Linked DNA regions of Homo sapiens. The protein of the gene in region 4 purifies or fractionates together with the protein of the main gene of each other region. This does not show direct contact. Each region holds a gene or a part of one and is shown on either strand. Other genes may lie near its edges. The genes, in order: CUL4B, VBP1, CETN3, DCAF12L2, PFDN1, PDCL3 and FGF8.

Evidence for each region.
Region 1: the proteins of DCAF12L2 (region 4) and CUL4B purify together in Homo sapiens (affinity purification with mass spectrometry; one large-scale study listed by BioGRID and IntAct). This does not show direct contact.
Region 2: the proteins of DCAF12L2 (region 4) and VBP1 purify together in Homo sapiens (co-immunoprecipitation; one large-scale study listed by IntAct). This does not show direct contact.
Region 3: the proteins of DCAF12L2 (region 4) and CETN3 purify together in Homo sapiens (co-immunoprecipitation; 3 studies listed by BioGRID and IntAct, with this or other methods). This does not show direct contact.
Region 5: the proteins of DCAF12L2 (region 4) and PFDN1 purify together in Homo sapiens (co-immunoprecipitation; one large-scale study listed by IntAct). This does not show direct contact.
Region 6: the proteins of DCAF12L2 (region 4) and PDCL3 purify together in Homo sapiens (co-immunoprecipitation; one large-scale study listed by IntAct). This does not show direct contact.
Region 7: the proteins of DCAF12L2 (region 4) and FGF8 purify together in Homo sapiens (co-immunoprecipitation; one large-scale study listed by IntAct). This does not show direct contact.

Annotation. Positions count from the first base shown.
Region 1 is NC_000023.11:120,554,463-120,557,962, forward strand, and holds part of CUL4B (cullin-4B), read right to left. Parts: coding exon 3,462-3,500; intron 1-3,461.
Region 2 is NC_000023.11:155,226,460-155,229,959, forward strand, and holds part of VBP1 (prefoldin subunit 3), read left to right. Parts: intron 1-775; coding exon 776-842; intron 843-1,924; coding exon 1,925-2,023; intron 2,024-3,500. UniProt on the Homo sapiens protein: Binds specifically to cytosolic chaperonin (c-CPN) and transfers target proteins to it. Binds to nascent polypeptide chain and promotes folding in an environment in which there are many competing pathways for nonnative proteins.
Region 3 is NC_000005.10:90,392,757-90,396,256, reverse strand, and holds part of CETN3 (centrin-3), read left to right. Parts: intron 1-2,149; coding exon 2,150-2,193; 3' UTR 2,194-3,500. UniProt on the Homo sapiens protein: Plays a fundamental role in microtubule-organizing center structure and function. As a component of the TREX-2 complex, involved in the export of mRNAs to the cytoplasm through the nuclear pores.
Region 4 is NC_000023.11:126,163,490-126,167,609, forward strand, and holds DCAF12L2 (DDB1- and CUL4-associated factor 12-like protein 2), read right to left. Parts: upstream 2,801-4,120; 5' UTR 2,436-2,800; coding exon 1,044-2,435; 3' UTR 10-1,043; downstream 1-9.
Region 5 is NC_000005.10:140,282,602-140,286,101, reverse strand, and holds part of PFDN1 (prefoldin subunit 1), read left to right. Parts: intron 1-3,500. UniProt on the Homo sapiens protein: Binds specifically to cytosolic chaperonin (c-CPN) and transfers target proteins to it. Binds to nascent polypeptide chain and promotes folding in an environment in which there are many competing pathways for nonnative proteins.
Region 6 is NC_000002.12:100,569,493-100,572,992, forward strand, and holds part of PDCL3 (phosducin-like protein 3), read left to right. Parts: intron 1-85; coding exon 86-229; intron 230-2,097; coding exon 2,098-2,306; intron 2,307-3,500. UniProt on the Homo sapiens protein: Acts as a chaperone for the angiogenic VEGF receptor KDR/VEGFR2, increasing its abundance by inhibiting its ubiquitination and degradation.
Region 7 is NC_000010.11:101,773,315-101,777,458, forward strand, and holds the start of FGF8 (fibroblast growth factor 8 isoform F precursor), read right to left. Parts: upstream 2,801-4,144; 5' UTR 2,587-2,800; coding exon 2,555-2,586; intron 2,463-2,554; coding exon 2,426-2,462; intron 1,903-2,425; coding exon 1,816-1,902; intron 1,599-1,815; coding exon 1,418-1,598; intron 1-1,417. UniProt on the Homo sapiens protein: Plays an important role in the regulation of embryonic development, cell proliferation, cell differentiation and cell migration. Required for normal brain, eye, ear and limb development during embryogenesis.

The DNA.
Region 1 (3,500 bases), 5.6 Mb from region 4:
CTCAAGGTTGTCAAGGAAAGATAATTTTAAAACTCAGGTCCAATTCTAATTTAAAATTACTTTAAAAAGACAATGTTTGCTTACTGCAAGTGTACTTAGAACAGCATGTTCTTTTATAGAAATTAAAAACTTAGTAGGCAGTACATGCAACCCACACTAGGGACTTCCATACTTAAAGCTTTAAAGCAAAATGTTTTTTCATGCAGAAGTAAGTTCTAAGCAGATATATGCCAGTAAGTGTTTACCTCAGAGAAAGAGGGTGGGACAGGGGTTTGGAGAACTTTTGTATAACTACATATTTCCACATTATTTCAATTTTAGAAGAGTACTTTTTCTTATGTTTTTATTTCCCACTCAGGTAGATTGAGAGAGTACTTCTAATTACGTTTCAATGAGTCAAAATCAAACAAGCACCTGAAGTCCAGATTATATGAAATAGCTTTACCTCCTTTATCCTCCTGTTTGAACTTGAACATCTCAAAATAATCTTTCTGAGAACAATCCAAAGGAACATTTATAAAATTAAGGTCAAAAACAGTAAAAGAGCTAAAAACCAATGCTTTTGAATTCATTATAGCAAAAGCAGTAAGGTATTATGAAAAATGCAAACAGTGAAGTTATAAGACTTGTGACTAGGCTAAAGAAATGCAACTGAACAACAGCAGGTAAAACTTACGAAGTACAAGAAAACAAAAACAAGAGATGCAAGCTCTATGCTCTTGAAAGAAAAAGATTTAACAGAATCAATGTATCAGGAAAAGTATTTTCAAATCAAAAGCTCTGGAAAAATATTCAAGGTAAAGTAAATAGGGTTAATTAATAACCACAATAAACATTTGTTACAAATATGGAATATATAAAATATTATTGAAATTAAATATGCTGTATACCAGCATATCCAAATAAACACCATATACTATCCAAATAAACACCACTTATGCATGCACAGATAAAAATACTACTAAAATTATAAAGAGCTTTTTCCCTAAAGTAAAACAATTTAATTGTTTCAAACACTGCACTACAGTGGTATTCAAAGTACCAGGGTATATTAGTGAGGTGGTACAGGAGTAAAAGTGCAATGAACTAGAAATCCAGCATCTCAGTTTGAGTTGCCCCTGCTCTGCCAATATGTGACTCTGGGCAGGTTATTCAACTTCTCTGAGACTCAGTCTCCTCATCAATAAAGTGGGGATAGGCCAGGCGCGGTGGCTCACACCTGTAATCCCAGCACCTTGGGAGGTGGAGGCGGGTGGATCACTTGAGGTCAGGAGTTCGAGATCAGCCCGGCCAACATGGTGAAACCCTGTCTCTACTAAAAATACAAAAACTAGCAGGGCGTGGTGGCAGGCGCCTGTAATTCCACCTACTTGGGAAGCTGAGGCAAGAGGATCACTTGAGCCCGGGAGGTGGAGGTTGCAGTGAGCCGAGATCACGCCACTGCACTCCAGCCTGAGTGACATAGCAAGACTCCATCTCAAAAAAAAAAAAAAAAAAAAGTGGGGATAGTAACTACTACCCTACGTACCCCAGAAAGGGTTTCCATAATGCTTATATGAGATAATACGAGATGAATCCCCTTTGCAGGCTGTCATGGACACCACAAAGAAAAAATATTGGACCACATGCTCTCTTAAGGCCTTTCCAAGTCAGTTTCATATTTTGGCTTTTATTGTTGTACATTTTAAGAGACGCATATATAATACGCCAAAAGAGCCATATGAAATGGGCTTATTCTTAAGTAATAGCTTAGTACTACAACTACTAGCCGACATTTGCATAGCATTATAATGCTTATAATGTTACACGGCATTATTACTATGTGTTGTGCACTGATTTGAGTATTTTGCGTGTACTAATTTTCACAGCAACAGAAACTGGTGATCTCAATTGTCATACTACAAGTGAAGAAGCTATAATGTGGCTTGTAAAAAAGTTTGACTCGTGATACCATCTTATATTTGTAAGATTATAGTGCCTGGAGGCGTTTTCCACAAATATCTTATTTGATTCTTATCAGCAACCTTGTGAGACAGGTAGGGCAAACTATTATTTCCTCTACTTTAGAGAGGAGGAAATTTAAATTGAGAGTGACGGCTGGGTTTGGTAGCTCATGCCTGTAATCTCAGCACCTTGGGAGGTTGAGGTGACAAGACTGCTGTAGCCCTGGAGTTCAAGACCAGCCTGGGCAACATAGCAAGACCCCTATCTCTTAAAAAAACAGGAAAAAAAACTGAGAGGGCTTTAGTACCTGGCCCAAGATTATGAGGGTAACAGCAGTCAAAACTAGATCCCAAACCCATCTTCTGACTCCTAATCCAGGTTTACCCATCACCATACTAGCTCTGCAACTAAAATATACAAATACTGATAAATAAAACCAACATAATTTCTTACAAGGTACTCATCAATACAAAAATTCAAGCTATTGTACTCTGAAGTATATATATATTTTTTTTTTTTTTTGAGATGGAGTTTCACTCTTGTTGCCCAGGCTGGAGTGCAATGGTGCAATCTCGGCTCACCGCAACCTCTACCTCCTGGGTTCAAGCGATTCTCCTGCCTCAGCCTCCTGAGTAGCTGGGATTACAGGCATGCACCACATTGCCTGGCTAATTTTGTATTTTTAGTAGAGACGGGGTTTCTCCATGTTGGTCAGGCTGGTCTCGAACTCCTGACCTCAGGTGATCTGCCAGCCTTGGCCTCCCAAAGTGCTGGGATTACAGGTGTGAGCCACCGTGCCCGGCCTGAAGTATCTTTTAACACCAAATCCCTGACACTCTAATGAAAGTAACTTCTTGAATTGGTTGTGTGTCAAATACACAGTAGGGAAAAATTTCTTGGTAGCAAGGGATTGCCCTTAGGAACTGCCCTTAAAATTATATTTAAGTGTAAGGACCCATTTGCTAAGTAAAGAATCTGAACCTCAGACTAAGCTGCTGGACTACAAACTGCTACTCATTTCTGGGCTAAGGTGCGTCTTGTAGCCCAGGTATTAGAAAAATGTAAAGAGCAAGAAAAAGAAATGGCAAAGTCTACTATTAAGAAGGAGGTAGAATAAAGGATATGAATAATATCTGCATGTCTTGAGGCCTTTCCTATGGGTAGGTAACACAACTAAGAAACAATTATCACAATAGAATGACATGTCACCAGAAATCATCTTTGGGATTCATGCTATAGGATTACATTATAGGTAGAACTTCTATTACACCAAGGTACACGTAACTGTAATTTCTTATCAGGAGGGTCAAATATAAGCACAACTTATACTGGTATGACTGTACCCATGGTTTATGTGAGAATACGTGGTCTAATTATAGAGTTCATCAATTAATGGAGAAACTAAAATTAGAAGGGAACCAAAAGTCTACTTAAGAACCTATTTCAGAAAGCAAAATCCATATACATCCCACCTCAATTTATGTTAATCAAATCTGGTTATGCATATTAATACATACCTGGTAGAGTTCTTCTAAATTGTACTTAATTGAAGTACT
Region 2 (3,500 bases), about 29 Mb from region 4:
TTAAGAACGATCGTTACCTCATTTGAAAAGAAGAGCATTTATCAACATAAAAGTTAAGGAAGAAATACCCAAAGCTTAAAAGAATCACTAAATTATACTGTATCATAATGTGGTGTGTTTGGCATTCAGATGATTCTGTACATTTTTCACAGTGTGACAAGTGCACATACTGAGAAGGTGTCACTGTGCTTTGCCTGGCATTTAGCTGACTGTGATGTACATGTGTGTATACCCAATGCACACACCAGGAGTAGCTATGTGCATCACTGGATAGGGGATTGGTGTCTTCTATTTTAGAATGTAACTTTTGAATCCATGTTATTTTTAAAATTAGTTTTAAAATTAATCTATTTAAAATTTCATTCTAATCAAATGCAGAACCTATGAATCACCTCTGTGGAATATAGTCTGCTCTAGAAATGTTAAATAGCCATGGGGTATTTGACATAATAGAACAGAGCTTTGTCTTCATGGAATGGGCATTCCATAAACATTCACTAGTATATCTTAAATATTTTTATTAAGTATTTATACTTTAAATATTTTATGAATATTTTACTAAATATATTTTCTTTTGGTGAATATTTCTTTAAATATTTTATTTTTATAAATATTTATATCTTATTTTATCTCATATCTAAAAATATCTTAAGTATTTTATATCTATAAATAGTCCTCAAGAACACATTAGTAGAAAATGCAAAGTTAGTAAGACCGTGTCCTGTTGTTTATTTTTGCCTGCAAAATACTAAGTTACTCTTTTTCTTGTTCACAGGCTAAAAGGTCAGATTCCTGAAATTAAACAGACTTTGGAAATTCTAAAATACATGCAGAAGAAAAAAGTAAGTGCATTTTTGTTTGTAAATATGAGCAAGCTAGGATATGTCAGCAGAAACTCGTCTTCTTTGACTCTTTGGTCACTGATATTTGATCTGTGCTGTGGAATCCAGTCTGCCTTCTTAAGCACATACACTAATGTTATGATGTGCTTCTGTAGCAAATGTGGCTTTGTGGCCTTCCCCCAAAAGTCAAGTTTAATTCTAGGGCCCACACTTGGATTACTTTGCTTATCTTTAGTGCTTGTGAAACTTAAATGCAATTTGAAATTGTTTTAGGTGTACAAAGAAAATGTCTTATTCTGTGCTAGCAGCATCTAGGGTTTTTTCTTTGTTGTTGTCTTTCTCCCTAAGAATAAGGAGTTAGTCCAAGATTTATAGAGCTGGAACGAATCTTAGAGATCATCTGTTACAGGTTCTCATTTCATAGTTGAGGAAATGGTTATGGAGAGGTTATACTCGACCATTGTCTATGTAGTTAGTTACTGGCAGAACTAAATTTGAGAGTCTTCTAAGTCTTAATCCAGTATTCATTAAATAAAAGCAGGTTGTAAAGATTAAATCTCATAAGCATATTGTATTTAAAAGATTGTGTGTATGCTTATGATTTTGCTTGACTGGTAGAATAACTATTTCTAGTACATTTTAATATGTGGTGAACTTTGTAAGACTTCAGCAACTGATTGATTGGGCATGAAGCACCAATGAAATAATAGAAGAATGGCTAATTCTTACAATAATGCCTTCTCTGTATGTCAGGCACTCGGGGGTGTGTGTGTGTCTGTGTATACTCAGTGCTTACCACTGACTTCATAGGTGTAGGGACTGTTGTAATCCTCATTTTACAGATGAAGAACCTGAGATATAGAAGTTAAGTGAGATGCCAGATTTGTACAGCTAGTGAGTAGCTGAGCCAGAGTCCATACCCAGCCACCTGGGTCTAGCATTCATTTCTTTTACCACTACACTTAGCCTGCATGATGGTACTGTTTTAAATGTCCTAGGTTCAACTGTGCAATCTCTCCTTTATAACCTTGGTATCAAACTGGCCTGTTTATGGTACTGTCATTTTTTTTTTTGTTTTGAAGGAGTCCACCAACTCAATGGAGACCAGATTCTTGCTGGCAGATAACCTGTATTGCAAAGCTTCAGTTCCTCCTACCGATAAAGTGTGTCTGTGGTTGGGGGTAAGTAAATGTTATAGCCACAGCTGATATATTTGTAAACCAGTGTGTTTTCTGTAGCAAACACACTGGTTTTGCTAGTATTTGCTAGTATTTTAGTAGTATTGCTCGAGATATGTAAAGTGTTCATCTCCTTTTGATTGTGGAAGGGACAAAGGGACAGAGTCCAAGTGGTTCATATTAGAAATTGACTAGAATCAGAAGTGCGATGAAGATCGCAGTAAAAACATACTGAAGTCTCTCCCAATCAAGATAAAACTGATCAAACAAACCCTGCTTCTCTTCCAGTTAGTGCTTTATCTCTCTTAAATATAATGGAGGAAGAGCAATAGAAGTAAAATAGAAGGTACTGCTGAACTTTAGATAAACGCTTCTTCCCATAAGAGTTTAATAATTCTAGAAAGATCCCTCTCAATTTAAGGGGAAAAAGAGTATTGCAAAAAGTTTGAGGTTAGAGTTTATTTTTTAAAACCATGTATTTCAGTTTTAGATGATTTCATTGAGCTTATCTGTGATTTACCTATTTTGCTCTTCTCAGTCCTCTGACTATCCAGCTACCTGTCTGTGGATCTTGTTACCTCAGGCAAGTTCTCATACAAAGTAGCAAGCCAAGTGTACTTCTACCAGCTGTCCTACGGGGAGGATTTCCCCTAGCTGCTGTCCTGTAGGATCACTCTGGAGAGGCACTCTAGATTAGCCCAAGGAGGTTTGCTCAAAGTTTGTACAACATTTATATTTCACTCTACAATCTGCATTTCAGTATTTATCTTTTATAATTTATCACTAAGGCTTTTTAAAAAATAACTTTGAAGCATAGCAACTACACCTGAGTGTCCAAGGATTCAATGATTTTCTGTATTCAGTTTTTTTGTAGAAATTGCATGACCTTTTGATTCACAAATTCAAGTGTTACTTTATTTCAGGAAAGATAATTTCTGTTGTGTACTTGAATGTGACTTTTGCCCCATTTCTTTTATTATCTTTTGGGAATAATAAATATGCATATGTTCGATCTCCTTTATCTGTTTTCAGTACCTATCATGTTCTCTGTTTTCAGTTATTCGATGTGTTTCATTCTGTGTGATTTCCTCTGGCTGCTTCCCCATGACTTTGTGTTTTCCCTGGTAGTTATTCTGTTTTGTTGCTTTTACTCTGTCTTTTGTAACTGTTCTTCTGTTTCTCTTTCTCTTCATTTTCTTTGCTGAGCTCTTCTTGCTCTTTTCATGTTTTTCTTCTTTCATTCCTCTTGAATGTTTAAATCCTCATTTCACCACTCATAGACTGGCACTTCCCACAATCTTCTCCATCTCAGTAAATGGCAGAATCTTTTGCCTGGTTGCTCAGAACAAAAATCTTTGAGTCTTCTTTGACTCTTCTTTATTTTATATCTCTCAACCAGTCCTTCAGCAAACCCCACTGGTTCCTTCTTCTGAATAGATTGAGAAGCCAACTATCTCTCACTTCCTTACTGCTGTTACCA
Region 3 (3,500 bases), on a different chromosome or scaffold from region 4:
GCTTCATAGTTCCCTGTCAGCTTCTGGAGGGTGCATTTTTCCTAACTCATAGCTTATTTCTGTGAGGCATACACTATTCTTTCTTTGACTGTATTTCTGATGGTATTCTCCCACCCCAGCTCTCTTTCTACTTCCTTTCCAAATTCTGTATTTTTATTTTAGAGCCCAAGTAATGATTTACCTTTACCTAAATTTTTCTTATTAGTAATAATTTTTACCATTGTGAAGGATTTTTTTTCAACACTGATTTGGTCTTTGTTTTAATAATAAATAGTATTTTGTGTTATAAAACATTTGTTCTGTTTCAAGTATAAAAACTGACTAACATAGTTATCAAAACCGGTTTTCTATGTGGTTTCTAGAACCAGTGCAGTATATATTCTTTTCATTCCCTATGACCATGTTTTATCTCCTCAACATTTTTTAATTGGTTAATTTTTTCTAACTGTTCATTATGAATATTCTCAAACAGAAAAATTGTCAGACTAGTACAATGAACACCATTGTACCTTCTGCCTAGATTTAGTAATTAGTATTTTACCGCATTTGCTTTACCTGTCGTGTGTATATTTTTTTCTCAATCATTTGAAAATAAATTTCATATATCAAGAACTCAGTCTTTAGGCCAGGCACCATGGCCCATGCCTGTAATCCCAGCACTTTGGGAGGCTGAGGCAGGTGGATTGCTTGAGCCCAGGAGTTCAAGACCAGCCTTGGCAACATGGTGAAACCTAATCTCTACCAAAAATACAACGATTAGCCAGTCTCATAACCCGGTCTCTAAATTAATTAATTAATTAATTAAATTTTAATAATAAAACAAAAACTTGATCCTTTAATATTTTAGCATATCCATCTACTAAGAACAAGGATATATCTTTCATAAAGCTATGATACCAATGTTACACTTAAGAAAGTTAACAATAATTTTATAATATCATATAATATCTTTCTCATTTCGGTTTTAATGTATTCCAGAATAGGAAGCCTGGTGTCTGTTTTGATATATTACGCAACACTTATTGTGGTGTTGGCATTCACTAGCCACTTAAAAATGTTTGATTCAATGGAGTATTTTCATATAATACCTTCTATGGTAAATAAGAGTTAAACAATCTAAAACATCATCTCATAGTTCAGTGTTTTCAGATGAAGGAAATGAGATGCAGAGCTGTTCTGTGCAGAGCTGTGACTAGAGACCAGGTCTTAAGTCTCAGTGTAGTTTTCTTTTGGCATTATCAAAATTATCATTCATAATTTATGCATTGTTTAGGTATGTATTAAGTCTTAGGGCTAAATGCTAAATACTTACCAGAAGTATCTTCTGAACATTTTTCTTAATTGATACGTGCGCATATGTCGGGTTTTCAAAATTATATTCTATAAGATTATCTGATTTCTTATTTCTAGGTTGCTGTCTTAAACATTATGTTTTATAAATTGGAGATTCTTACTATATTTATAATTTTGGCAAACTAAAAATTAGTCCTTATCCATGATTATTTTCTGCCTTTACATCTATATAGTTACTGGATTACTTTGGTGATTAAGATTACATCTGTAATCTTTTCAAATTGCCATTTTTATTGATACCTTTGAGGTATGGTGACCTGGTTTTAATTATTCTTTAACATAGGCTTTTAAGTATATAAAAGTTCAAAAAATAATAATTTAACTTCTTTTTATAATTTTATTATATTTTCATTCTTTAGAAATCTAATTTACATGCATGATATGTTCAAGCTTACTTGTAAAGGAAGGATTTGCTAAATGAACTAGTAGAATAAAGATTATAAAGAGGGTTGTTTAAAGAACCTTGAAATGTCAAGCATTTAAAATGTTTTAGCAAGTATGTACAAATATGACTGTGATTGACTTTTTTGGTAACATTATCTTTTCCCCAGTTAATATTATAGAATACTAATTTGTAATGTTTATCACATTATATGTATTTTTGCATCCAAGAAGTTACATTTAATAAACATGTTCCACTTCCTAACAAAGAAGTAAAAGCAAAAAGCCATGTCTTAATGTAATAATTTTGCATAATGTAAAATTTTTTAAATACTTAGTGTAAAATGGTAGTCGTGGATTCTGAAAAAATAAAATGTTTATATTTCTGACTATTTCATTTTCTTTCTTACCACAGTAAACCAAGAGGAGTTCATTGCTATTATGACTGGTGACATTTAAAGAATTACAAGGATAAACACTAAGAATGTTGCAGTTACCATCTTATATTCTATTTTTGTGCCTGGAGCCATGTGAAAAAAACCAACTTAGTTCTTTTATCCTAAAGGACCAAAAATAAGCATCTTATATATCTGTATTTTACTACTGTTAAGTTTCTTTGTATGAACTGTGTTGTTAGTACTCAGATAGTTTAGCTTTGTATTTATAATAGAGCTTTTATATAAAGTTTTAAAAATTGAATGTGTGATATGTGTTCTTTGAAGGTTTTTTAATTTAACATTTATAGTCACTTTTTAGTGCACACATTTTCCAGACTTTCGTTAATAAAATATTTATTTTATTAGAATTTTAAAGTTTGGTAAATTTGTTTTTATTCCTAGTATCTGTTAACCCTCAAGAGTGGATTTCTTAAATCTTCCCTTTATAATTTTACTAGTTTCTGAAACAAAAATTGAAATACAATTAGCAATAGAGTGGCACATTTTTCCATTACCTAACATTTCATCAATTTTGACATTCTATATTTTAATACAAGCTGACTCAATATAAGCCTAATTCCTTTTTTAAGAGTCCTGTCTTTGAGTTTAGAAGGAATAAGTATTGTGCAGATAGACCCATTTATCCTTGTGTATTATGTTTCTTAACTTGGTATCATTGTAAGTATGAAAGTTAATTTTCTTCTGAATATTTCCTTAAACAAATTGAATGAATACAATTTGAATTTTCTAACTTCTTGACTGAGAGATTTAAATTTTGGAATTTTGATTTGTTAAGGTAATTATCACTCAATTACATGTCACAGTGATGAAAATAGAAAACTGTAAGCCACAGAAATAATTTAAGTCTATGTTTTACCTATATGAAGGAACAGTCTGTGATTCACCAGGAAATAGTAGAGACACAGTTTCCAAGTACTGGTGGGCTCTTCTGCCTTGTAGAAGTGTATGTTAGGGGGAAACAAGTGGTTATGGAGATCGATCATAGAAAAAAATAGTACCTATATGGATCCTTCACTCATATCTAGTACTCGGTGTTATGGGCTCTCCCAGGAACGGAATTGAGTTGTCTATTTCAGCAATCTTTCTTTAGAATTCTTGTTTTAAATTTTTAAGTTTAAAGTGTAGTATCATTTGAGGCGCTTTAAATGTTGTGAGCCTTTTAAGAGTATTACATTAAGGGTTGTCCACTAGAAATTTAACACAAAATCAGTAGGGAATACTATAGCAGTAGTGACATTTCAAACAGTTATCTAGGAAGCAAGTGTATATTAAGTCATTCTTGTATTGCTACGAAGAAATACCCAAGAC
Region 4 (4,120 bases):
GCCACTTAATTGCTAAGATGATGAACACATTTTATTTATTTTTCTGCAACACATCACATACTGGATCCAGAATTATCCATGTATACAGTAATAAAAAATCAACACCTACTCTGAGCACAACTGCCACAACTGGCTTTTCACTGTAAATAGCTACCTGAATTTAAAGAGATGTGTACCCCATATACCCCCAAAAATACCTCCCTGATTGCACTACCACATATATAGACCAGAATTGAGTAGTTCTGAAAATCTGTAGCATAGAAAAGCAGGCCATAATACAGCGGCTTTAAATAAGAACACGGAGGGCCTGAGGATAGTAAAGTTTTACTGAATAACCAAAAATGTTGATTAATAGTATGAACAACATTGTAAGATTTCTAACTAACAGAACATATTTTTAAAGCATTTTACACATCAACACTATACAAACAACAGACATTGAGTTTCCAACATCCAAATGAATCACGCCCTAGAATGGTGTGTGCCACACTCTAGAATGGTGGCAATCTAGAACCTGAACTGCATTTTGTAATTAGAGTAAGGCTATAAATGATGGGTAGTTCCTCAAAACAACCCCAAAGATGCTTTGTAGCTCACATTTCCCCAAAACACCACACATCTAACATGTGTAAAAGATCTGAACACTATTGCAATATTGATAAAACTAACGTACTGAATAGTAGTGAAGACTATGACTACATCAACCTAAAGAAGGAGGGTATGTGAATCACTGAAAGACAGAACACAATTAAGGTTTAGCCAAAACTCTTTGAATGAGAAGGCAAAAATATACTGCTGTTGGGAAACGTGAATGAGAGTTTTAAAGCCAAAGTTTTGACTGCCGAAAGGACCACTTGTGCTCTCTCGCTCCCGCTCTCTCTCTTTCTTTCTCTGCCTAATACATTAAGCACACGTAAGTTGGACTGGTTCCACCTGGAAGACAAAAGCCACACAAAGTTAAAAGCACAAATGCAGCATGAAGAAGGAAAGTCAGGCGGAACTGAAAGGTAAACCTGTGCACTTTGAGAACAAGGCGTCCATCCTTAACTCCAGAGGCCTGCGTAGTTCCCATGGAGGCCTGAAGGGAGAGGCCCCCCAGCCACAAAGAGCTTCATCTCCGGCCAGTTGTAGCAGTGGGTGTAGAGCGCATTGGGGAACTCTCCCATGCCACCAAAGTAGTTCACCCAGACGTCATCTTGGTTGAGCCAGCCTCTGCCGCAGGCAAGCTTGAGCTTCCTCCCTGCGGGCCCCGGCATGGAGTCCAGGCTGGAAGAGGCCCTCTCCTCCAGGAACTTCTGGGCGCGGATGTCATAGAAGAGCAGGGAACCATGGCCGGTGCCCACAGTGATGATGTGCTGGTAGAAGCTCAGCGACCGCACGCCTGTGCCACCCTCTCGAGAGCACAGGGGCCGGATGTTCTGCTGGCGCTGGCGCGGATCCAGGAAGGAGACGTGGGACTGAGAGCCCACAGCGTACAGGGACAACTCATCACAGTAGGTCAGGCACACATTCTCTCGGCAGTAGGGCAGCCTGATGGACAGGAGCCTGGATAGTGTGCTCCGGGCTTTCCACAGGTGGAAGTAGCCGTCCAAGGACACCGCTCCCAGCTCCTGGTTCTTGCCGCTGAAGGCCAGGGCCCGTACCTTGCGGTTGCTGGGGTTGGTGCTGGCCCTGGGGATGGCCTCCACATCCCTCGGACGGATGTGGGCATATACTGGGAGACCCACCTCGCTGTGCCAGGCAATGCTGCCATTAAACATGTCTGGGTCCATCCGCCACAGAGCCACGGTGCCGTCGCGGGAGCCGCTCACAGCTACGGTGTCACTCAGCCAGGCGACTGCGAAGATCCAGTCCTTGTGGCCATGGCGGTCGCCCAGGCACAGGGGGTCCAGGGTGGGCAGCTGGTAGATGGCCAGGCTGTTGGGGTTTTCGCCGCCGGTGGCCAGAAGCGTCTTGGAGGGATTCAGCTCGATGGCATGGATGCCGCAGCCCTGGTGGGCCTGGGCCAGCCCGGCCTCCTTGTCCCGCATGAGGGGGATGCGCGTGATGTGGCCTGACTGCACGTCCACCACAAACAGCGTATTACACTTGGTGCCGCACACCACCTGCCTGGCGTTCAGCCACTGTGACGCGAACACCTTGTTGAGGGTGCCCAGGTCCAGCTGGCGCTCCGTCAGCAGCTCGGGCAGCCTCTGGACGGCGTAGCCCCGCAGCTCGCCCTCGAAGCCCTGGAGCCCGGCTGGGCCCCGCGCTCCTACCTCCCGGCCCTTCAGATAGTGCACCAGCCTGCGACGCGTCGCCGGCCGCTTCTGCTTCTTGGGTAGCAGAGGCCCCTCTCCGTCCGCCGCCGCTAAACCCTGCGACGACGAGCTCCCGGCTCCCGCCTCGACCGCGGGCGCTTTCCGTTTCCTGCTACCTGTTTGCTGCTGGGCCATGGTGGGCGGCGGGCGATCTGCAGCAGCGGCGGCGGCGGCGGCGGCGGCGGCGGCGGCCCGGCGGCGGTGGCGGCGCGTGGCACCCGTGTTGGCCGTGGCGGCGGTGGTGGGGATGGCTGCGCTTCCGCGTCAGCCGAGAGCTCAGGATCTCTAAGACCAAGAAGCTGGTGCGATCGCGGGCGCCCAGACTTCAGTCTGAGGCTCGGCGGCGGCGGCGGCGGCAGCGGTCGTCCTGGCCAGAGATGCGCGGCCTGACGTAGCAGAGCCGGGGCGAAGCGCGGCGGCAAGGGCGGCAGTGGCGGTGCAGACCTAGGCGAGAGCGGGAAGAGTGTCTGTCTGGATGGCTGCGGGAGCGAAGTCAGTGTGGGGGGAGGACGACGCTGGGGCCCGAGTGTGAAGGGCGGAGGCAGTGGGAGGAGCTGCTGGGCTGGCGTGGGGTGCCTGCCGGGTAGCGGAGGCCGCGCGGGGTGGAGGCTGGAAGGGGGCGGAGGGGAGAAGGGGGTAGCGGAGCTGCAGGGGCAGAGTCGCGGAGGGCCAGCACCCTAGGTCCCCAGTATCAGACATGCGTTGTTTCGCTACCCTCAGGACAACAGCTAACTACCCTTCTTAAAATCCGTACTTCAGTAAAATCTGAAACCTAAGATATAATCAAGCACGGGGCTAGAAGGAGGCCGAGCCACGGTCTGCCTGGAGAAACCAGTGTGCGCTTGGTGTAATCTTGGGACACCCTTCGCTTAGATTATACATTGAATTTGGCAAGGGATCGGGTGCGGGGGTGGGGGGGTGTGGGGTTCAGCAGCGTCAGGGAGACCTCTACCCTCGTGTCAGACCTGCAGCTTCTCCAGTTTCAGCTCCTGGGTTGATGTCTTAAACAGTTTCCACCAAATAATTTTTTTCCCCTTCTCAAACTGAAGTCTTTGAGCACCTGAATCCCTGAGCATTTGAACTGCGTTCCAAATGCAGTTCCCTAGGCCCTGCTTTCCACCCGGGTGGTATCAGGGACCCTTTAGTCAGAAAGCAGCCTCAGGAGCATCCAGGGCTGCAGTGATGATAGGGGTGGAGACATGGGGGTGAGGGGTGAAGAGAAGGGTTTTTCTGTAAGGCATTGAGTTCTTTCGAACTCAGCCCAGGGCGGGTGGAGTGAAGGGGAAGAGGTCCAGGAGAGGGGTACCTCCCTCTCTCTCCTGGGACGGAAAGGTCAGCCCAAACTTTCAGTCATAGGAATCTTGGCAGAGCCCTCTCTTGGTGTGGGGGCCCCCTTGGGCATTGGTACAGTACTCAGAGGAATGCACAGGATTTCCACAGGCACAGATGATAAAGAACTTTGCAAAGTGACTAAATGGCAAAATGGTGAGAGTGTGGATATTCAAAGCATGAGTTTGGCAGTCTGAGAAGTTACATGATCCACACCTGCTCTAAAGCTTTAGGGCAGTCAATCCTAAAGCAAGCCCCCAATTCCACAGTAATACCTTGCACTGAAATGCTGGTGGCTGATACCAGGTCTGCACAGGCCCCAATCGTCCTCCACAAAAAAAGTCTTTGTTAAGCGTGTTTGCAGAAGTCAGGTGGTGAGTTAACTGTCCTTGATCAGAGATCATGAAAATACTTTGTTGCTGTTTCCCCCCAATTCTCCCTGCTCTTTTTACAAACTTATCTCAAACCCAGAAACTCCAAGTGCACCATGG
Region 5 (3,500 bases), on a different chromosome or scaffold from region 4:
TTTACTTACTTACTAACTTACTATATTGACATCTTTACATGTCAATAAAAAAAATATTTTTTTTTAAATTTCGGTTTGGTTTTTTATTTAATTAGTCATTCTTTTTTAAAAAAATTTATTTATTTTTTAGACATGGGGCATTGCTATGTTGCCTGGGCTGGACTTGAACTCTTGGATTTAAGCAATCCTCACACCTCAGCTTTCTGAGTAGCTAGGACTACAGGTGCATGCCATTATGCCTGGCTGCCCCCTTGGTTTTATCTCCTGTTTTGTATCCTATTTCTGTGCCAGTGTGGATACTTAAGGTCTCCAGGATTCAGCATAAACTCTCAGGATGAAAGCCAATTTACTGCTGTCTTACATTCCTGAATTCCCAGTTTCACTTCACTTTGGACCTTTGTGGAATCCTTCCTTTTGTGTTAGTTCAACAAAATGTTAAAAAAAAATTTTTTTTTCCTTTGTTTCTAATCAGGAGTGTTCAGGGTATCTACTCTTCATTATGCCAATAACAGAAGTCTGTAACTCACTGAGCAGTCCACAATGTGGATGTGCCATAAAGTTTTAATCACTTCCTTACTAAGGAAGTGATTAAAGTAAGAAATAAATTCAATTTAAAAAAATTTTAAAAAAAGAAGTTCAATTTATTTCTACTTGCTTCCACGCTAAAAATTACGACGTAAAAATTCAGTAACTTTCCTCACCAGTGGAGTTAGGCAAAGAAGCAAGATAGGCTCATTCTTTTTTTTTTTTTTTTGAGATGGAGTCTCGCTCTGTTGCCCAGGCTGGAGTGCAGTGGCGCGATCTCGGCTCACTGCAAACTCCACCTCCCGGGTTCACGCCATTCTCCTGAAGATAGGCTCATTCTTATGTCTTTTCTATGCTGCTTAATTTGTGAATACCCTGAAACCTAAATGCTAATAGGATACGTTTTTAGACACCCTCTAAAAATTTCCCACCCAAAGTGAACTCGTCATAAGCATTTTGTTGTTTCTGAATAGCATATGTCTAGGTGACCATACTTTGGAAATTGTGTCCAAAATGCAGCAGTGCAAGTGATCTGGGATTGTGTTTTGGGCAGGTGAACAATGGTTTTGATTCATACTGAGTTATAAGAAAGTGGAAGTTGTACCAAACTGCAGGATGATTTAGAAAACGGAGTCTGATGTTTCTCAAATAATCAAAACCGAAAGTCTCAGAATTATGTTTTCAGATGGCATAATTACAAATAAATGAGGAAGTGAAATAGCAGGTTACAAGTCCTTGAGAGTGGACAGTGCAGAGGCACGTGGCACTGATTTCCAGGTCAAAGAAGAGGCCTTTTGCAAAGCATCAACTCGAATTCAGGTTATATAATCCTGAGTATTTTAAGCATGTTATCTGCATATTATTTGTCATGAGAGAATACTTTCCCTCTTCATGGTTTATTTTTCCTTATTGGTACATTTTGAACTCCAGAATTCTTTATTTACTATTTGGCTTTCCATAAACAATCAGGCAGAATGACTATGAGATTCTCTACATTGAGCAACTGTGTACATAATATTTGCTTATGATAAGACTTATATTATCATGATAAATCCTTTCTCTTCACATAGTATCTGATAATCCAATGCCCTTTTAAACAATAAGAAAGATGTTTTCCAAAGACTTTTTTTCAGAAATCAGATGTTTCTTGGAGCCTTTTCCAGTCTTCATACAATATATCTTTGCCATTTTTTAAATTGAGGACTAAACCAAACTTTCCATAAGTTTTTGTGTTTGAATTTTTACTGTGTAACTACTCTTTGAGGTAGACATTTGCATTTACCCAACATTCATCCTTGTTAAAACTTGCGTGGCTGAGATGTCCTTAGGTTTGTAGTAGTAAGTTGGCCAGCTTCGGTGGAATCTCTCTGGCCTTTGAAGTTGGCACAGTCCAGTATAGCTACCTCAAAGGATATGTGGTCATGGAAAAACGTGTTTTTGTTGTTGAGTGTTCTTGCTTTCTAGTAATTTTATTTTCTGCTCAAGAGATTTAGTATCTGTTCAGATACTTTATTTTTAAAGGCCACATAAGTAATGACTTGACCTCTAATCTTAGCTTTGAAATTTTCCCAGACACTAATAAAGATGATGTCTGATGACCTTTTATTTGAGAATAGTACTCATTGGCCAGCTATCAGTGCTACTTAAAAATGTATATTTTACTCAAAAAATTATTTCCATGGCTAAAAGACTTTCTCAGTAAAATCACACATGTCATGACATAATTTGGTGACTCTTGCACCTTGTTTTAGAATAGTTTTTACATAACATTACTGAGACTTAGTACTGTTCAAAACAACTCTTCTCTTCAAATACAAATATGAGTTAGTTCTGAGAAAAATATTCTGTAAACCATAATCTTATCTGAAATAGCACCCATCTCTTGGATCCAGTAAGAATATTTTAGACATGAAGGGTTCTATAGTAAAAGACCTGGAATTAATCCTTGTTTTGCATGAATGTGGGCTCTCTTTCCTGTAAATATACAGTAAGGTTTTACAAAGAATCAAGTTACTACTGAAGACTAAGATCATCAGTTGGGCTGGGCTGGGCGTGGTGGCTCATGCCTGTAATCCCAGCACTTTGGGAGGCCGAGGCGGGCAGATCACGAGGTCAGGAAATCGAGACCATCCTGGCTAACATGGTGAAACCCTGTCTCTACTAAAAAATAGAAAAAATTAGCCAGGCGTGGTGGTGGGCGCCTGTAGTCCCAGCTACTCGGGAGGCTGAGGCAGGAGAATGGCATGAACCCGGGAGGTGGAGCTTGCAGTGAGCCAAGATCATGCCACTGCACTCCAGCCTGGGCAACAGAGCGAGACTCCGTCTCAAAAAAAAAAATTATCTGGGCTGGCCGCATTAGGATATAAGCTTAATAATTAGTGGAGTAAAAGAAGTTCTTCAGATTTTATTAATATGTGTGGTAAGGCTTAGTTATGAAGAAGAGGGGACAAGGCAGTTTCCTTCCAGGTGTTGGGGCATAGCTAATTGCCCTTTTTGGTCTGTTTTTACTTGTCTTATATCTATAATAACGGACTCTCTTGATAAGAACCCACCTAGGCACAATGATGTTTTTGTGGGGTTGGCAGAGGAAACTGCATGTTGCTACCTTGATGTGTTTTCTCGTTTGACTTTTTGTTAAGAGATGATGTTTAGTTCTTTGTTGCTGAACTCTGTTAGTGCAAAGAGAAGAAAAATCTTGCTTAATTAATTGCAATATTAAATTGAAATATATTTTAGCTTCCTTAGACAGTCCTGAAAGAGATTTGCATAACTGGGGTCTTCCCTTGGTTCCAGTGGAGGGGAAATATTTCAGTTCACTTACTTGGGGCTATAAAAGTTTGTTCTTCCTTTCCCTGAAGCAAGAATTGTGAACATAAAGTCATAAAACAGTTTCAGTGTTAATTTTTAAAACTTCTCCATATTTCCACCCTCATCAGTGGTAAATAATGTGCCTGATGTAAAATGGAAAAAGTTGA
Region 6 (3,500 bases), on a different chromosome or scaffold from region 4:
TGGGCTTTTACAAGGATTGCCTTCTAGACGATGTGTGTGTACACGTGTTTGTGACGTAAGATGTTTCTCTCCTTGTTTTGTGCAGACGGCGGAGACTGGCTGAGTGGAAAGCAACTAAACTGAAGAATAAATTCGGAGAAGTTTTGGAGATCTCAGGGAAGGATTATGTTCAAGAAGTTACCAAAGCTGGCGAGGGCTTGTGGGTCATCTTGCACCTTTACAAACAAGGGTGAGCTGATCTTCCACTCCATCTATCAAATGTTAATTTGAATTTATGTCTTCAGGATCTCAGGCGTTACCTATATCAGAGGGTTAAGAAATTTTTTTTTCTGGGCCAGGCGCAGTAGCTCACACCTGTAATCCCAGCACTTTGGGAGGCTGAGGCAGGTGGATCATGAGGTCAGGAGATCAAGACCATCCTGGCTGACACGATGAAACCCCGTCTCTACTAAAAATACAAAAACAAAATTAGCTGGGCGTGGTCGCGGGCGCCTATAGTCCCAGCTACTTGGGAGGCTGAGGTGGGAGAATGGCATGAACCCGGGAGGCGGAGCTTGCAGTGAGCCGAGATTGCGCCACTGCACTCCAGCCTGGGCGACAGAGCGAGACTTTGTCTCAGAAAAAATTTTTCTGGTACTGAGTTTTTTGTGTTTTTTTTGCTGGTTTGCCCAAACCTTATTACTTAATTTTTTTATCTTAAGACTTTCAAGTTAATAATTTGTGACTAATATGAATGCCTTTGTTAAAGTATAGCAATGAAGACTATGCTTTTCTGTTTTTGAAAAGGAATTCCTAAGTTATTTATTCCTTTACAGGAACTCTGACATTTCAACATTCTATGTAATGAATTTATCTCATAGATGGCAAGGTTGGCCTTTACAGTAGTAATTGCCTGAACTGTGTGATACTGAGGGCCTCTGATTTTTCTCAGCTCTCCAGTCTTGTCTTAAACTGTAGAGTCCAGTGCTTATTTAGGAATTTCTTTTTTTTTTTTTTTTTTGTTTGAGACAAAGTCTCACTCCATTGACCAGGCTGGAGTGCAGTGGCATGATCTCGGCTCACTGCAACCTCCGTCTCCCAGGTTCAAGCGATTCTCCTGCCTCTGCTCCTGAGTAGCTGGGATTACAGGCGCCTGCCACCGCACTCAGCTGATTTTTGTATTTTTAGTAGAGACGGGGTTTCACCATCTTGGCCAGGCTGGTCTTGAACTCCTGACCTCATGATCCACTCATCTTGGCCTCCCAAAGTGCTGGGATTACAGGCGTTAGCCGCTGCACCTGGCCAGGAATTTCTTTAAAGCAGAAAACGTTTTCTGACATTTCATACTTTCTAAACCTTCAGCGTTTTCTCATTCAACCTTATAAGAAATGTATAGCAATTTTATCTTTTACATTGAAGCTGTTTTTCTGACTTGTTTTGTCAAATAAATTGGACTTTGGATTTGTGTTCTTCACTTTCCCTCAGCATATTAGGAAGTTTTTAAGAAATGTTAATTCAGCTGGGCATGGTGGCTTACACCTGTAATACCTGTAATCCCAGCACTTTGGGAAGCCATTGCGGCCGGATCTCGAGCTCAAGAGTTCAAGAGCAGCCTGGGCAACGTGGTGAAACCCTGTCTTTACAAAAAAAAAAAAAAAAAATCAGCTGGGCATGGTGGTGTGTGCCTGTAATCACACCTCCCGAGTAGCTGGGATTACAGGCGCCTGCCACTGCACCCAGCTAATTTTTGTATTTTTAGTAGAGATGGGGTTTCACCATCTTGGCCAGGCTGGTCTTGAACTCCTGACCTCATGATCTTGGCCAGGCTGGTCTTGAACTGCTGACCTCATGATCCACTCACCTTGGCCTCCCAAAGTGCTACTTGGGGGGCTGAGGTGGGAGCATTGCTTGTGAGCCGAGATCACACCACTTCACTCCATTTAGCCTGGGTGAAAACAAGACCCTATGTCAAAAAAAACATGTTAATTCATCTTAGCTAGCAGCAGAATTACTTGTGAAACTGTTACAAGGTTTTACTTAGGGTAGAAGGGTCATTGAGCTTTGTTCTGTATAAATGTAGGATCATAATTGCTTCTGTTTTCTATGTGTGTTTTATAGAATTCCCCTCTGTGCCCTGATAAATCAGCACCTCAGTGGACTTGCCAGGAAGTTTCCTGATGTCAAATTTATCAAAGCCATTTCAACAACCTGCATACCCAATTATCCTGATAGGAATCTGCCCACGATATTTGTTTACCTGGAAGGAGATATCAAGGCTCAGTTTATTGGTCCTCTGGTGTTTGGCGGCATGAACCTGACAAGAGATGGTAAGGGCTCTGGGAGACAGGCGGGGCAGTGAGAGATGGGAGGCGCATTTCTGTTGGAGAGAGTGTCTATTTCCTGGACTCCTGTTACGATGGTGGGTCAAGTTCACTTCTGCCTGTGTATGAGGACGGAAGCACGTTTAATCTCTCATCTTAGTTGCGTAATCAGGAACAGTTACAACTGGGCTCTACTGATTCTTAGTTCAAGGAAGGCGTGATAGACTTAAATATAAACATTTTTTATATTGGTGTGGAATATATTTTGTCTCTACAGTTGGATGTTTTTGTAGCTTGAAATCACAACATTCACTTTTGCTTTAATTCACATGAACACAGGGAGACGTTAATGTATGTATTTGTATTTTTCTACAGAAACATTCTCAGTTGAGTATGTTAGTAGCTTTTACATTTATTTACTTAGTTATTTATTTTTTGAGACAGAGTCTTGCTCTGTCACCCAGGCTGGAGTGCAATGGTATGATCTTGCCTCACTGCAACTTCTGCCTCCCAGGTTCAAGTGATTCTCCTGCCTCTGCCTCCCAAGTATCTGGGATTACTGGCACCTACCACCACGCCCAGCTAATTTTTGTATTTTTAGTGGAGACGGGGTTTCACCATGTTGGCCAGGCTGGTCTCAAACTCCTGGCCTCAAGTGATCTACCCACTTCAGCCTCCCAAAGTGCTGGGATTACAGACGTGAGCCACTGCGCCCGGCTAGTAGCTTTTATTTATTTTTTTTGAGACAGAGTTTCACTCTTCTTGCCCAGGCTGGAGTGCAATCACGTGATCTCGGCTCACTGCAACCTCTGCCCCCCAGGTTCAAGTGATTCTCCTGCCTCAGCCTCCCTAGTAGCTGGGATTACAGGCATGTGCCAACATGCCTGGCTAATTTTTTTGTATTTTTAGTAGAGACAGGGTTTCTCCATGTGGTCAGGCTGGTCTCAAACTCCTGACCTCAGGTGATCCACCCGCCTCAGCCTCCCAAAGTGCTGGGATTACAGGCGTGAGCCACTGCGCCTGGCCAGCTTTTAAATTAAATTAAAATTTTATTTAATTCTGCCTGTTAGCTCGGAAGGATGTGGTTTTTGTTTGATTGTTTGTTTTTTTGAGATGGAGTTTTGCTCTTTCGCTCAGGCTGGAGTGCAGTGGTGCGATCTTGGTTCACTGGAACCTCCACCTTCTGGTTTCAAGCAATTC
Region 7 (4,144 bases), on a different chromosome or scaffold from region 4:
CTGGAAGAGCCAGGCATTCGTCTCCTCTCCTTAGAAGCTGAGAAGGGCAGCAAGCAGCTAATTTGGAGGGACAAAGGGATGGTAGGCCTGCTCTGCCAGCCCAGTAGGGGAGCTCGGCCACCAGGCAGGCCGCCCCCACCCCCACCCCAGAAAGCCCGCTCTCTCCCATGTCGGTTGAATCTGCTCCGATCTGGGGAGCTGGGGCCGCAGTTTACGGCAGCTCTCCCGACCGGGCTTTTGGAAAGCTTAACATTTTCAAACCTATTCTTCCACCCCAGTGACAGATTTATCCCAGGAAAATTATGTCTCCTCCAGCTTTGAAGGGAAGTCAGCTACGTCGATGCAGAAAAAATGCAGCGAGACATACTCGATCCCCCAAACTGGCTCAAGAAGAGGAGAAAGTATTCAGGAAATGTTAAAAAAGGTGAAAGTAAGAAGAGTTTTAATCGCTCTGCCAGACGCAGGGGTCTCTCCAGAGATTCAGAGAGAACAATCTTGAACCTCTTTTTTAACATTTACAGACTTGCAACTCCTTTCAAACTCCACATCTGAAAAAAAGCTCGTTCTTTTTCTGTTTTATATCATTCTTCATTTTTCTTCTTAGCTCTTAAAATGCCTCACCTTTTTATTACATTTTAATAGAGTCTTCCCCTCTCCTTTCATGCTTGTTTAACGTGGTCATTATTTAAAGGTTTTTAAACTCACAATAATCGCTCTCTAAAAACAACACCAGCCGCCCAGAGGGCTTGCTTTTCTCTTGGTACATCCAGGACTCTGGAAATTGGCCCCGTTTCAAGGCAGGAATATTGAATGTTTTAGAAATCAATCAGTCCTCAGCCTCTCTGCCGGCAGTAGCTCTCCGCACTTGCCACCCCACAGGGAGCCGGGAGCCCTGCCCCAGCCGCCTGGGTTCCCCAGGGAATGGAGCAGGGAGAGCCCCCTTCCAAGCCCAGTTTCCACGTGTAAATTGACCCATCCGATTAAAGTATTTAAGGGTTCCCAGCAACCTCCTTTTCCAACTGGGAGAGTTGAGGGGATTTCTCTCCCTTCTCTTTCCCACTCTCCTTTTGTGGGCCCTGGCGACATATCCTCTTTCAAGCGCTTGCCTTAAACCTAGGCCCCCTCCCCCTGAACCCCCTGCCTCCACCTGCAGCTGGGGAGGAGTGTATGAAGGGGGGAGGTGTAAAGGGAGATTCCTAGATTCATTCATTTGCTGGGCAGGGAAGGGGGCACCTGTGGCCAAGTACTCCCCGAGGCCCCTTCCCTAGCCCTCTCTTCCCCAGCTGACCCTCAAGACACCTTTCTGCCTTAACTCCTTCCCTTCTGAGCTGGGGACCCTGCAGGCCCCCGGCCAGTGCAGTTGGGACTGGTGGTCCAGGCGCCGCGCATCCCACAAGCTACCTTCAGCGCGCCTTACCGAAGGGGTCGCCGTCCTCTGCCATGGCGTTGATGCGCTTGTTGGCCAGGACCTGCACGTGCTTCCCGCTGGTGCGGCTGTAGAGTTGGTAGGTCCGGATGAGGCGGCGGCTGAGCTGATCCGTCACCAGGCTCTGCTCCCTCACATGCTGTGTAAAATTAGGTGAGGACTGAACAGTTACCTTTAGGAAATTGAAAAATACACAATACACCATTATAATGCTACTCCGCCCAGGGGCCCGAGTGGCCCCATCACCCTGCGTCCCCCTCACTGCCCCAAGCCGCCAGCAGGTGCTGGGGGTTCCCCCAACATGCCAGCCCAGGCCACCATCCCCCACCCACGCAAGTCGGGCAGACCCAGCCCAGGATGAACGAGCCCCAGGGAGAAGCTGGACCCACCTGTTGGGAGACACCCTGGGGCTCCCGGCCAGCCCGGAACAGGGAAGCGAGCTCCCTGCCCAGCGCAGGGCCCCTGCCCGGGCCTTCCTAGAGGAGCAGGGCGCTTTTAAGTAGGGAGGCAGCCCTCCCCGACCCCTGACATTTATAAAGACAAATTTACGGAGCAAATGTTGAGAGTGCAGGGAACCTGGGCACCCGATCATTGGGCCAAATCGGCCACAAGCCTCCCCCGAGGGGCGCTGAGAGGGTCTCTGCTGCAGTCACCCGGCTTCCCCTGGCATCGAACATCCATCCCCTGGCCGCGGCTGCCCCCTTCCTCGGCGGCTGGGTGTTCCCTATGCCCCCAGCCGGCGAGGATGCATGGGGGACAGTGCTGGGCTCCGAGACCTTCGTTTCTATCCTGGCCACTCACTCGCTGTGTGACCTCAGGAGGGGTGCTACCTCTCTGTGCCTCAGCTCCCTCCTCGGGGTGGCTCGGGGCTGGGTTTCTAAGGTGCCCTCAGCCCTCCCGCGCCGGCCGCAGAGTCAGTCCCGGTGCCCCCGACCGGCGCTGCCCACCCGGGTCTCACACCGGCGCGCCCGGCCCCCGCCTCCGCGCACCCCTCCTCACCTGGGCTTGGAGGCAGAGGACCAGCAAGTGCAACAGCCTGTGGGAGACAAAAGCGGGCGGGAGAGAGAGGCGCGGGTGAGGCGAGGGGCGCGGGGGGCGGGTGGCGGGGCAGGGCGGCGCGGTACTCACAGGCAGCTCAGCGCGGAGCGGGGGCTGCCCATGGCGCGCGGCCCCGGGGCACCGAGAGCCCGGCGGGTCACGCCGTCCCGCGGGCCGCCGCGGGAGGACGCGCTGAGCAGGGCGCGAGCGGAGAGGGTGCGGGTGCGGGAGGCCGGCGGCGATCACGACGCGGCTCCGCGGGTCCCGTGGAACGTCGTGCTCGCCGCGCCGCACCGAATCGCTGTGCGCCGCTGCCGGAGCCGGTGGCCGCTGGCTGCTCGGGAGCCGGAGCGGGCGGGAGGGTCACGGGCTGGCGGGGTGGGTGGGGAGGTGGGAGGGCGGGGAGGGGTGGGGGCGGGGGGCGCCGCACCGGGCGCGAGGGGGGAGCGCGGGGCGGGCGGCGGGAGCCCGCAGCCCCCGGCTGGGAACTGGGGCCTGGATGCAGCCCGGGGCGGGGGCGGGGCGGCCGGGGAGGGGCGGCCGACGGGTTCGGGATTGAGGGTCTGGGCTAGGGGAGGGGTCTGGGGACCCGCGGGAGGGGCGGGGGCGGCCGGTCTGGGCGCCTCCCCCTATCCCCGGCCTGTCCCCTCGCGCGCTCCCCGGTCCCGGACGCGCGGGGATGGGGGCGCCTAGGGCTGCAAACTCTGCGGGCCGGGAGACCCCGAGCCTGGGCTTCCCCGACCGCCTGGAGCGCCCGAGTCTGGCGGGTCTGGGTCTCCGCCTCCGGGCCCAGCCGCTTCCGCCGCCGGCTACGCAGTGGTCTCCGAGCCACCTACTGTGTGTCCCGCCGGGCCCCTGGGAGCGGCCGCTAACCATGCAGCGAATGGCTGCGCACCCGGCCCTCGCGCAGTGCGTGCCGGTGCCACCCGGACCCCGCTCCCCTGTTTCGGCCGCGTGCCCCGTCCTGTCGGTCTCTCCAGTCTCCTTCACTCTCCCGAGGAGGCCCTGGGAGCCAGAAATGCCTCCCCCTCCCCCCATCCCATTATCACTATCACCCCTTCCCCTGTGCCCCTCACCACACACACACACACACACACACACACACACACACACACTAGCCTGAAGCTTGAGGAGCACCCCGAGCCACCTGTGTGGAAGAGAGAGTCCGGAGGTCCCTGGCAGGACCCACTGTCCCCGTACCTCAGCAGGCAGCAGGGGCAAAAAAACTCTCAGTAGCTTTTACTGGGGGAAGGGACTTCCATCCAGGCCACCCAGCCCTTTCCCCCTCAAAGCCCCACTCGTTTTTCATTTCACAGGTATTTACACACCTACTGTATTCTAGGCAGGGGCTGGTCAGCTGGGCTTGGGGCATAGGAGAAGGTAGGCACTTGTCTAAGCCTTTCCTAGCCCCCCACCTTGTGGCTTCCCCCCTGAGGTTTCTGGAAACCCTGAGCCCCCATGCTGCTTCTGTGGGAGCAGCCTGGGTGGACAGAGATGCTCTGGGACAGGTGCCTTGTGAGGAGCAGGTGATGCCCTACCAGACTGCTGTCTTCACTTACAACCTCCCCTTCCCCAGTGACCCTCCATTCCCCTGGGGGTAGGGCTGGAGGGTTTGGTGTGGTCCCAGGAAGCCATTAGGCCAAAATTAGCGGCAGCCCTAGTCCAGCAGCACAGCCAGGC